3 linked regions of the Homo sapiens genome follow. The protein of the gene in region 1 interacts with the protein of each later gene in a pairwise test. Each region holds a gene or a part of one and is shown in the gene's direction. Other genes may lie near its edges. The genes, in order: MIB1, UBE2W and UBE2U.

Region 1 (3,657 bases):
CAAGTAGCTGGGACTACAGGTGCATGCCACCACGCCCAGCTAATTTTTTGTATTGTTTTTAGTGGAGACGGGGTTTCACCTTAGCCAGGGTGGTCTTGATCTCCTGACCTCGTGATCTGCCTGCCTCAGCCTCCCAAAGTGCTGGGATTACAGGCATGAGCCACCACACCCAGCCCTTTTCATTCTTCTAATAGTGATTTGGAAGAGTCAAATTTTTTAATTTTGAGGAAGTCTAATTTATCAAGTTTTTCTTTCATCATTTGTGTTTTTTGTGTGTGTTCTGTCTGAGATATCTTTGCCAAACCCAAGATCGCTAAGGTTTTCTTTTATGTTTTGTACTAGAAGTTTATAAAGTTTTAGCTGTTATGTTTAGGTCTATGATTCTTTTTGAGTTAATTTGTATATATTGTGTGACATATGGATCCAGGTTTATTTACTTGTGGATATCCAGTTGTTCCAGTGCCATTAGTTGAAAAGACTTTGTTTCTTTTCTTTTTTCTTTTTTTTGAGACAGAGTCTTGCACTGTTGCCTGGGCTGGAGTGCAATGGTGTGATCTTGGCACACTGCAACCTCTGCCTCCTGGGGTCACGCGATTCTCCTGCCTCAGCCTCCCAAGTAGCTGGCATTGCAGGTGCACACCACCACACCTGGCTAATTTTTTGTATTTTTAGTAGAGACAAGGTTTCACTATGTTGGCCAGACTGGTCCCGAACTCCTGACCTCATGATCCGTCTGCTTCAGCCTCCCAAAGTCCTGGGATTACAGGCATGAGCCACCACACTCGGCTGAAAAGACTTTCTTTTTCTACTGAATTGCCAGTATACTTTTATCCAAAATCAGTTAATTGTTTATGTGAAGGTCTCTTTCTGGATCATGTATTCTGTTCTGTTGGTCTATGTTTTTAGCTATTTGATACCAGCCCCCAGTCTTAATTACTGTCTACATAATACGTGTTGAAGTCAGGTAGTGTCAGTCCTCCAGTTTTCTTGTTTTTTCGAAGTTATTTGACTATTCTAAGTCCTTCACATTTCCATAAGAATTTTAAAATCATTTTTTAGAGGGTAAAAAGGTTCTGAGACCAAAGTGTTTGAGACCTCTGCCTTATTTATGACCATGGGTAAGTTCTCTTAGCTCGGTGTGCCTCTTTTTTTCTCATTTTAAAATGGGAAGAGGAGAGCACTTACCTCGATAAGGTTGTTGTAAAGATCATGGAAAGTGTGTAAAATAATACTTGATCCATTTTAGACACTCAATAAATGTTAACAGTTATTGTGACTATTTTCACATAAGATGATGAGAAGAATCTCAGATAATATTATCAGAACCTAATTTGTCTCATTCTCCGTATCTTGGCTCAATTCCTAGTCATTGGTTCTTTTCTCAGTTGTCTCTCCTGTCATTGTTTCAAGTTGGTTGCTAGCTGCTCCAGAGCCAAATTAATTAGGAAAGAGAGTACTGTTTCTTTAGTATCTCAATCAGAAGTTCCACTTTTGAGTTCTGTTGGGCTTAATTGACTTGATTTGTGTTATGTGTCCATCCCGGTTCTAGCCATATAGGTAAGGTAGAGGTATCTGACTGGTTTGGGCCATGTTTGGTCCACCTCTGCAGCTGGAGAATGTAGGTCCACCTCTACAACTGGAGAAAGCATACTTGTGTGTATGCTTGAGAAAACCAGGGGTAGAGTGGTGGGGAGGGAACATTAGGACTAGAACTCATAAGTGTCCACCACACACACATACATATATATGATGACAAGAATTGATGGCAGATTCCTAGAGGGAAAATCATGACTCTTTATTTTATTGCAGTTAATAATGGGACTTGGTACCCAGGGGGCAGAGAAGAAGAGTGCAGCATCTATTGCCTGTTTCTTGGCAGCCAATGGTGCTGACCTGAGCATTCGAAATAAGAAGGGTCAATCGCCACTTGATCTCTGTCCTGATCCGAATCTCTGCAAAGCACTGGCAAAGTGTCATAAGGAAAAAGTCAGGTTTGTATTATTTATTATCATAAAACTTAATATTCTGTACAGAAAATATCATGTGGTTTCGTAATGGAGGACGTGGCTACTTGAAAATGTCTTCATCTTTGCTCTTCCTGTATATTTGTGTTGACCCTTTCTTTCCTGAAATTTTTCTTCCTTGAAAATTTTTCTGCAGGCAGCATGTCTCTTATTTTATGCCATATTCCCCACATTATTGAGTGCAATGCTCTATACTTAATAAGTTCTGAGAAACTTTTCTAAACTAGTCTGATCTTCTAGTACTCCCATGTGTTAGAGGGATTTATGAGAAAAAGTCTTCTAGTAAAATTGCTGTTGTTAATGTTACATGTATTTTAAATTGTATTTATTTTTTATTGTATTATTATTATTTTTTAAAAATACGTCTTGCTGTGTTGCCCAGGTTGGGCTTAAACTCCTGGGCTCAAGCAATCCTCTTGCTTCATCCTCAGTAGCTGGGACTGTATGCATGTGCCACTGTGCCTGGCTCTATATTTAAAATTTAAATAGAATCTTCCTAAGACAGGCAACTTATACTCCATGAACAGGGTATATCTCACACAAACTGTAGCACCCTGCTCAGTGCCTGACAGGTGCACTCAGTATCAGTGGAGAATGAACAAATGAATGCACCAAGTCCTGGTGGAGTTTTCTCTAAAGATGATCATTTCACATTTGTCTCTTTTTCTGAAAGATATGTCAGTGATTTTAATTATTATTTATGACATAACTAATTTCCTTATGAGATTTTATAGATGTACAAAAAGGTACACATCTCATTGCTTTTTTAAATCTGAACAGTGCTGTGCAACTGTTGTTGCCCTTTGTACCTGGTTCTTGTCACTGAAATTTCAGTAGCTGTTCCTTAACCTTAGTGTTCCTTGCCTCTCTCATAATTTATGTGTAGTGATGAAATGTCATCTCTTTGGAATCTGTGCATAGAACTGTGTTATAGAGGAAATTAATATAGTGAGGTATATACATTTCTTTAAGTGTATTGTTAAGGAACATGAAATTCTATTACAAAAAGAGAATGCATCGGCCGGGCGTGGTGGCTCACACCTGTAATCTGAGCACTTTGGGAGGCCGAGGCAGGTGGATTGAGGTCAGGAGTTCAAGACCAGCCTGACTAACATGGTGAGACCCTGTCTCTACTAAAAATACAAAAACTAGCTGGGCGCATGCCTATAATCCCAGCTACTTGGGAGGCTGAGGCAGGAGAATTGCTTGAACCGGGAGGCGGAGGTTGCAGCAGTGAGCCGAGATCACACCACTGTACTCCAGCCTGGGCAACAAGAGCAAAATTCTGTCTCCAAAAAAAAAAATCTATAAATATAAAGATATAAGGCACTATAATTATTGCAGTAATAACTTTTAAACAATGGAGTCTAAGGTGGACCCTCTGTGTACGTGTTGTGTACGTGTTCGTGAGTTTCTGAAGATTGTGGTAGAAACAGGGCATCCCTTTTCTGTAGCTGTAGGTGGTCATATGTATTTCTGTTCCTTGTATCTGTGTTTACGGATGCAGTCTATCTTTCTGTAATATAATTTTATGTTCCTTAAGGATACACTTAAAAATGTCAAAACAGCAGCTGAAGTGTTAAATTTTCCAAAGTGCCCTATCTGTTGTGGACTCTGATGATGCTTTGTTCCG
Region 2 (3,229 bases), on another chromosome or scaffold:
TTTTGAGTATGTGGAAGGAATGCCTGAATAGAAGCTGATCTATCTTAACATACCTCAAGAACTCCAGTTTTAATATGGTGAGTGAGGAGTTGACTGGGAAAAGGAGAGATCCAATTCTTGTTCTAGTCCTTGGCACATACACTCTCTGGGTTTTGAGAAAAGGATGGTCCTACAACGATTCTAAGTTGTTTTCTCATTGGTCCTACAACAATTCTAAGTTGTTTTCTCAAAGGCAAAAGCATGATTTCAAAATGACATCACTTGTCAGATTTTCTGGTGTATGGAAAGATTTAATAATCCTGCCTCTTTTGAAGCCTGAAACTTACAATTTAAAGCCTGAAATCTACCATAAGGAACTTGGTAAATTGTGTCAGATACCATGAAAATGCATCTTTTCATAGTTAACCACAGATTGTTTATGTAAAGGCAAATTGGTGGTCAGGTTCAAGGTAAAATGGATTATTGGGTTGATTAGTAGCCAAAAACTAAATGCATGTTCAGGTCAAAATGAATTTGTTTGTTTTAGTTGGTGCCATTTTCCTTTTATTATTCAGAACTACAGAGTGTGCATTTTATTAATAGGAATGAAAGCTCATGCTTGAGGATTTGAATAGGGTGGATGTATATATTTTATAAACTCAAGTTGCAAAATATGTAAAGTCACTACTTTTTAAATAGAATATAAATGTTAAAACAGACAAATCTATGTTATATATTTTTTAATACATGTATCAGACTTGTTAGTTGAATGCAGATTACTTTGCTTTATGGAATTTCATAACTTTTAATAATAAAGCAGTTGTTATTGGATTTTTTCTGTAGACTTGAATACTAAATGGGATAGATACCAGACCTCTTTTTGGTTTATGACGTAAAAGTATTTGTACAGTAGTTTCTCTTCACAAAAGACTGAATTTTAAAGGATTATAGAAACAGGAACATGTCCATTTCCAAAATGAGTGCAACAGAATGAAGATAGTCACTTAAACCATCTATTTAACACATCACCTTTATGTAATATGTAGCTAGTTTTAGTGTTTTAATAAGTCCCAACTAAAGACTGAGTGTTTTCAGTGAAGATGGAAATGGAGACCCAGGCACTTGCTTAGAGTTATCGTGAGTCCGATGTTCCTGAACTTCAAGTTGTACAATTAAGGGCATACTCTAAGAACTTCTGGATGCTTTCTGGAGTATACAAACAGATCAACTAATGACTTAAATGAGTGACTCTTGAAGCTGCAAGAAGAGGAAAGAAATAACCACAAGAAGGGGCTATCTCAGCATCTGTTATTCCTGACAGGAGGAATTAAATATGCTCTGCTGGTAATTCTAAGCTTTTCTGCAGGGGATCTGCTTGCCCCAGGAGCACCTTAGTCCTCATTGAGGCAGCCATTCTGCCATAAAAACGATCATGTCTCAAGCTGTTCCTGCCGTCCTACACAACTATGTTAGTAGATGGTTAGATAAATATATGAACCATCTTTTGTACTTTGATGATGCCCTTTTCCTTTATTATAATCCTTAATTTCTACTTTCCATAGTAGGATTTGACTTTTCTCCATTAGTTTAAGCTACCCTGGATAAGTGACTCTGTTTATGTCCTCCCTATATTTCTTACTCATTTTCACACTAACATAACACGTAACAAAATTAAACATAAGCTAAATTGAAGAAGCAAGTGAGACAGCTAAGAGTTTTGTGTACTTGGACAACAAAGCTCAAAGCCACTGTGGTTATCTGTCCTGTTGGGAGCCCCTTTCAACCATTTTTTTAGTTGCCTGTAAGATTTATTTTTAATGTTTGCCTGCATAATGCAAAATACATAAGTGGGAATCCCTACGCCCTTTACAGTTAAGTGGATTATGGAAATAATAAGGAAAGTTTATCAACTAAGGTAGGAAATATCTTCTCATGTCTGTATCTGGCCTTCAGGGACTTAATGTGGGTGAATATATGTCATTAGACAAGATCCTAATATAGATGGCTGTATCCTGCAGATAGCCAATTCAACATTAAAATTTTATGTTTCCATACCTCAATGAAAACATATTTCTTTTATCCTGTTATAATTTAATGACATTCCCATCCAACTTAATCAAGCAATGATACTCAGTAGTCCTCTCCTTGCATTTTTCAAGTCCTGTTGAGTGTAACTTTAAAATGTCTCTGAGATTTCTACCTTCTCTCCAGTCTCCTTACCATTAGGGCCTTTCACTACCTGGCCTTGGTGTCCCTAGGCTGCTCTTCAGCTGTCCACAAACCTTGTTTCATAAGCAGTAGCAATGCAAGCTTCCACTGCCGTCTGCTAATGTTCTTCCCTCCTAGAATGTTCATGATCTGCGTTTCTACCTGAAAGGTCTAGTTCAAAGGTAGCTGAAAGGTTATCATCCTTGTCCTTTCTTCTCTCCCTACCAGTCATCTATCCTGAACTTTTTAACAGTAGGGACAGTGTTGCAATTGTGTTTGTGTCCCCAGCACGTAGCACACAGTACCTAGTATACAGTACCTGTAGCACATAGGCATTTAATAAGTGTGTATTGAATTAACTTGGTTATGCTTGTATTTTTATCCTAGCTTTCTCAAAGAAACTTAGGTGCTAGCTATTTTGAAACATATATCCAGAACCACCACCTGAGTAAAATGTATAACAGGACCCTGCTCTTTCTATCCCAGAGAGTTTGAGAAAACTACTTTTAAATAAATCATTAATCATTCTTCATTGGTTTTGGCTTTTTTTATAGGTGTTTCTCATATCTTTATCTCTGAGGCAAATTGCTTGTCACAAATTAATTGTTTTAAACTAAATACATCTCAGGAACCATAAAATCATAAAGGTAAACCTGACATAGAGTTTAAAAACCAGCATTAAGCAGATAATTATTGTGTGCCTTTCATATGCCAAGAAGGATGGCAGATGAGGTATATATCTTCAAAGGGCATATGTAATAAGGGAGATAATAAATAGAAAAGCATATCATATAAAATGTGACAAGCCTTAAGAGGTGCAGATAGTTTCTGATTATCAAAGAAACATGTCTGTGAAAAGTACTGTCATGCATAAAGATGGGCCAGGCACAGTGGCTTACGCCTGTAATCCCAGTACTTTGGGCAGGTGGATCACGTCAGGAGCTTGAGACCAGCCTGGCCAACATGGTGAAACCCCGTATCTACTAAAAATAAAATAACGGCGTGGTGGTGGGCGCCTGTAATCCCGGCTACTTGGGAGGCT
Region 3 (3,657 bases), on another chromosome or scaffold:
GAGCATTTTTTTAAGTGTCTGTTGGCTGCATAAATGTCTTCTTTTGAGAAGTGTCTGTTCATATCCTTTGCCCACTTTTTGACGGGGTTGTTTGTTTTTTTCTTATAAATTTGTTTAAGTTCTTTGTAGATTCTGGGCATTACCCCTTTGTCAGATGGGTAGGTTGCAAAAATGTTCTCCCATTCTGTAGGTTGCCTGTTCACTCTGATGGTAGTTTCTTTTGCTGTGCAGAAGCTCTTTAGTTTAATTAGATCCCATTTGTCAAGTTTGGCTTTTGTTGCCGTTGCTTTTGGTGTTTTAGTCATGAAGTCCTTGCCCATGCCTATGTCCTGAATGGTATTGCCTAGATTTTCTTCTAGGGTTTTTATGGTTTTAGGTCTAACATTTAAGTCTTTAATTCATCTTGAATTAATTTTTGTATAAGATGTAAGGAAGGGATCCAGTTTCAGCTTTCTACATATGGCTAGCCAGTTTTCCCAGCACCATTTATTAAATAGGGAATCCTTTCCCCATTTCTTGTTTTTGACAAAAACATTTCTATGCCACCTACTTTTCTTCAAGAAAACTTTGTTGCCAAAAGTTTTCTTTTCATTATGTACCCCAAAAAGTAGTCGTCCCCCAAAAAAATTTTGTAAAATTTTTGATTTCCATATGTAAACTCTTTCTCCAAGGAAATGCTCTAATAGCTTGACTTGGGCTCATTGATGTCTCCCATAAGCCTGTTGTTTTATCCAGGATGAGTCATTAATTTTTCTGATAGAATTTCTCCCCTGTGTAGTGGGTTGAATCATGTCCCCACAAAACAAACACCTGTCCCCCCAGAACCTCAGCATATGACCTTATTTCAAAATAGGGTCTTTGCAGATATAAATAGTAATTAGTTAAGATGAGGCTATACTAGATTTAGGTGGACCCTGAGTCCAATGACTGTTGTCCTTATAAGAGAGCAGAACTACAGAGACCCACACGGAAAAGGTCATGTGACATTGGAAGCAGAGACTGGAGTGATGCAGCTATAAGCCATACAATGTAAAGGATTGCTGACAGCCAGCAGAAGCTAGGAAGAGGCAATAGAAGATTCTTCCCTAGGGCTTTCCGAGGGAGGGAGGCCCTGCTGCCACCTTGATCCCCAACATCTAGCTTCCAGAACTATGAGAGAATACATTTCTGTTATTTTAAGTCACCAAGTTTGTGGTCATTTGTTAAGGTGGCCCAAGGAAACTAATATACCTTGCTATACCACATGATGTTTTTATTACTTTTACTATGATGTTTTTTACTATGACATAAGTAGTAAACATGTCATATTCATTTGCTTTTCCAACTTCTATTCTGTTGGAAAGCACATATTGAAATAATTTTACTTTACCATTAAATTAGTCAAGACTCAGAATGGTTCCATATTCAAAGCCTATTGTTCTACTTTTATGTTTCATTTCATTTGTTTCACTTATTTTTCTCAGAAGTAAATATACCCTTACCAAAATTCATTTGGGAATTTAGTTTTCTTTTTCTCTTTCTAGGTATTCCGTTATCAAGTGTTGGCTTGCTAGAAAAAGAATGCCTCATGAAGTCACTCACTCAATGGAAGAAATTAAGCTCTGCCCAACTCTAAGTAAATCGATTCACTCTATTTGTTTTGCTTTTATAAATAACATATTATGCATAATATGCATAACTTTAAACTTTTTTCCATTTAAGTAAGTTGGAATATATGAGGGCTAATCCTTGTGTTCTCCTTTTAAGGTTGCTTTAACTTTTTCTGACTTTCCAAATTAATTTGGTAAATTAGTCACATAGGAATTGGAACTTTGACAGAATTGAGTTACTTATATTTTCAAGCTTACTACCCTTTAATAGGTTGATATACAATTTGAAATTTTAAGGCTAAGTTTCAAAATATGAAAAAGCAGCCAAAACACACAGAGCACTAATAAACTGATCCCTAAAACTCATTGTATATTCAAAGGTATATGCAATATGGTTGAAAAGAAAGAAACAATGCTGAGTTGTTTTTCGTGCTCTTTTAAAAATTACCATTTACTTGTTGGGATAGGTTGAGAGTGAGTCTTCAGCCGGGAGAGCTGGTAACTTACCATGGAAGTCAGCTGGTATAGAGGGGAAAGCATGACATTTGGGGATAGAGAACTTAGGTTCAGATTCCAGTTCTGTGCTACTATGGAAAGGTCACTCAACCTCTGAACTTAGTTTTTTTCATCCTTAGCTAGTACTGTGTATGTGGAAGATGTTCAACAAATCCTAGTTGCTAAAAATCTGCCCTTACTCACAGGATTCTTATGACTAAGTGACTCCATGTATAGACAATTTCTTTGTGAACTGAAAAGTACAAAAAAAAATAGTTACTGTTTTTTCCTGTCACCTGGCCACTAAACATAACAGCATATAAATGCCAGGCACAGGCAATCACCTTCATTCAGTGATTCTCCAAGGGCCCTGCCCCCGTATCTCCAAGTTTCTTTTCCCTGCTCAGTATCCACCTCTCTCCCTCCTAATTGTTTGGTGTGCCACGCAGATTTCCTCCTCTGTATTATCAGCCTCAGCCTTCTCCATTCAACTCTCCCTTCTTCCAGATTTCAGGGTACCTGTGAGGTAGGAAATGTTGCCTTCTCCAGCCTTGCTCTTTGCTTTCTCCATGATTTCCCTACTCCCCTCTGCAATCTCTGTCTTTCAACATCCCCACCATGTTCACCAGTGGAAGAGATCAGTTGGTTAAGTTGATGTGATTACAGTAATTTTTGTCTATGCTTTGTCAGACTGGTGACAAAGCTATGTCTCTATAGCTCAGCTCTGCTTATGTTTTTACCAGGTCTAAAATACTTTGTTTCCCATTTTCCTTCAGGATAAAATTTAGACTCTTTGACACAGAAAATCCTTAATGCTCTAATACTTGTCTCTGTCTTTGCAGTGACATTCCCTCCCTCTCCCCTTCACAACCTAAATGCTACACTAAGCTAGTGGGTCATGATTGTTTGTTCCCTACCTCATTTCATAAAAAAATTTGAGCAGTACACTGTGTTTTCTCATACCCCTACTCTAAATGCTCTTCTCTCCCCTTCTTTACTTTCTAATGCCTATGCATCCTTTGAGATTCAGTTCGGGTATTACCTTTTTTAGGAAACTTTCTTTGTGGGTTATCATAGCACTTCTACCATAGCCGTATCATGCTCTATTTGTTTTCTATTGCTGTGTCACAAATTAGCACACATTGAATGGTTTAAAACAACACACATTTATTATTTTACTGTTTCTGTGGGCCTGGAGTACAGGCACAGCTTAGCTGAATCCTCTGCTTAAGGTCTCAGAAAGCTGCAATCAAGGCTTTGGCTGGGCTGCATTCTCATCCTAGTGGTTTGAATGGGGGAGGAATCTGCTTCCCAGCCCAGTGAGGTTGTCGACAGAATCCATTTTCTTCTGTCTTTAGGAATGAGGGCCCTGGCTTCTGGCTGGGTATATGTGGGAGGCCTCCCTCAGCTGCTGAGGGCTGCACACAGTTCCTTGCCATATGGGCTCTCCCAGCCTGGCCTCCTACTTTATCCAGCAAGAGTCTTTAGAGCAAGTCTGATAGCAAGATGGAGTCATATGTGATGTAACATAATCATGTGAGTGAGACCTTATCACTTGCATCCTATTTTATTG

What was found.
Region 2: the proteins of MIB1 (region 1) and UBE2W interact in a two-hybrid assay, tested with the Homo sapiens proteins (one large-scale study listed by BioGRID and IntAct).
Region 3: the proteins of MIB1 (region 1) and UBE2U interact in a two-hybrid assay, tested with the Homo sapiens proteins (one large-scale study listed by BioGRID and IntAct).

The regions. Positions count from the first base shown.
Region 1 is NC_000018.10:21,845,135-21,848,791, forward strand, and holds part of MIB1 (E3 ubiquitin-protein ligase MIB1), read left to right. Parts: intron 1-1,809; coding exon 1,810-1,991; intron 1,992-3,657. UniProt on the Homo sapiens protein: E3 ubiquitin-protein ligase that mediates ubiquitination of Delta receptors, which act as ligands of Notch proteins.
Region 2 is NC_000008.11:73,785,709-73,788,937, reverse strand, and holds the end of UBE2W (ubiquitin-conjugating enzyme E2 W), read left to right. Parts: 3' UTR 1-2,719; downstream 2,720-3,229. UniProt on the Homo sapiens protein: Accepts ubiquitin from the E1 complex and catalyzes its covalent attachment to other proteins.
Region 3 is NC_000001.11:64,259,080-64,262,736, forward strand, and holds part of UBE2U (ubiquitin-conjugating enzyme E2 U), read left to right. Parts: intron 1-1,523; coding exon 1,524-1,615; intron 1,616-3,657. UniProt on the Homo sapiens protein: Catalyzes the covalent attachment of ubiquitin to other proteins.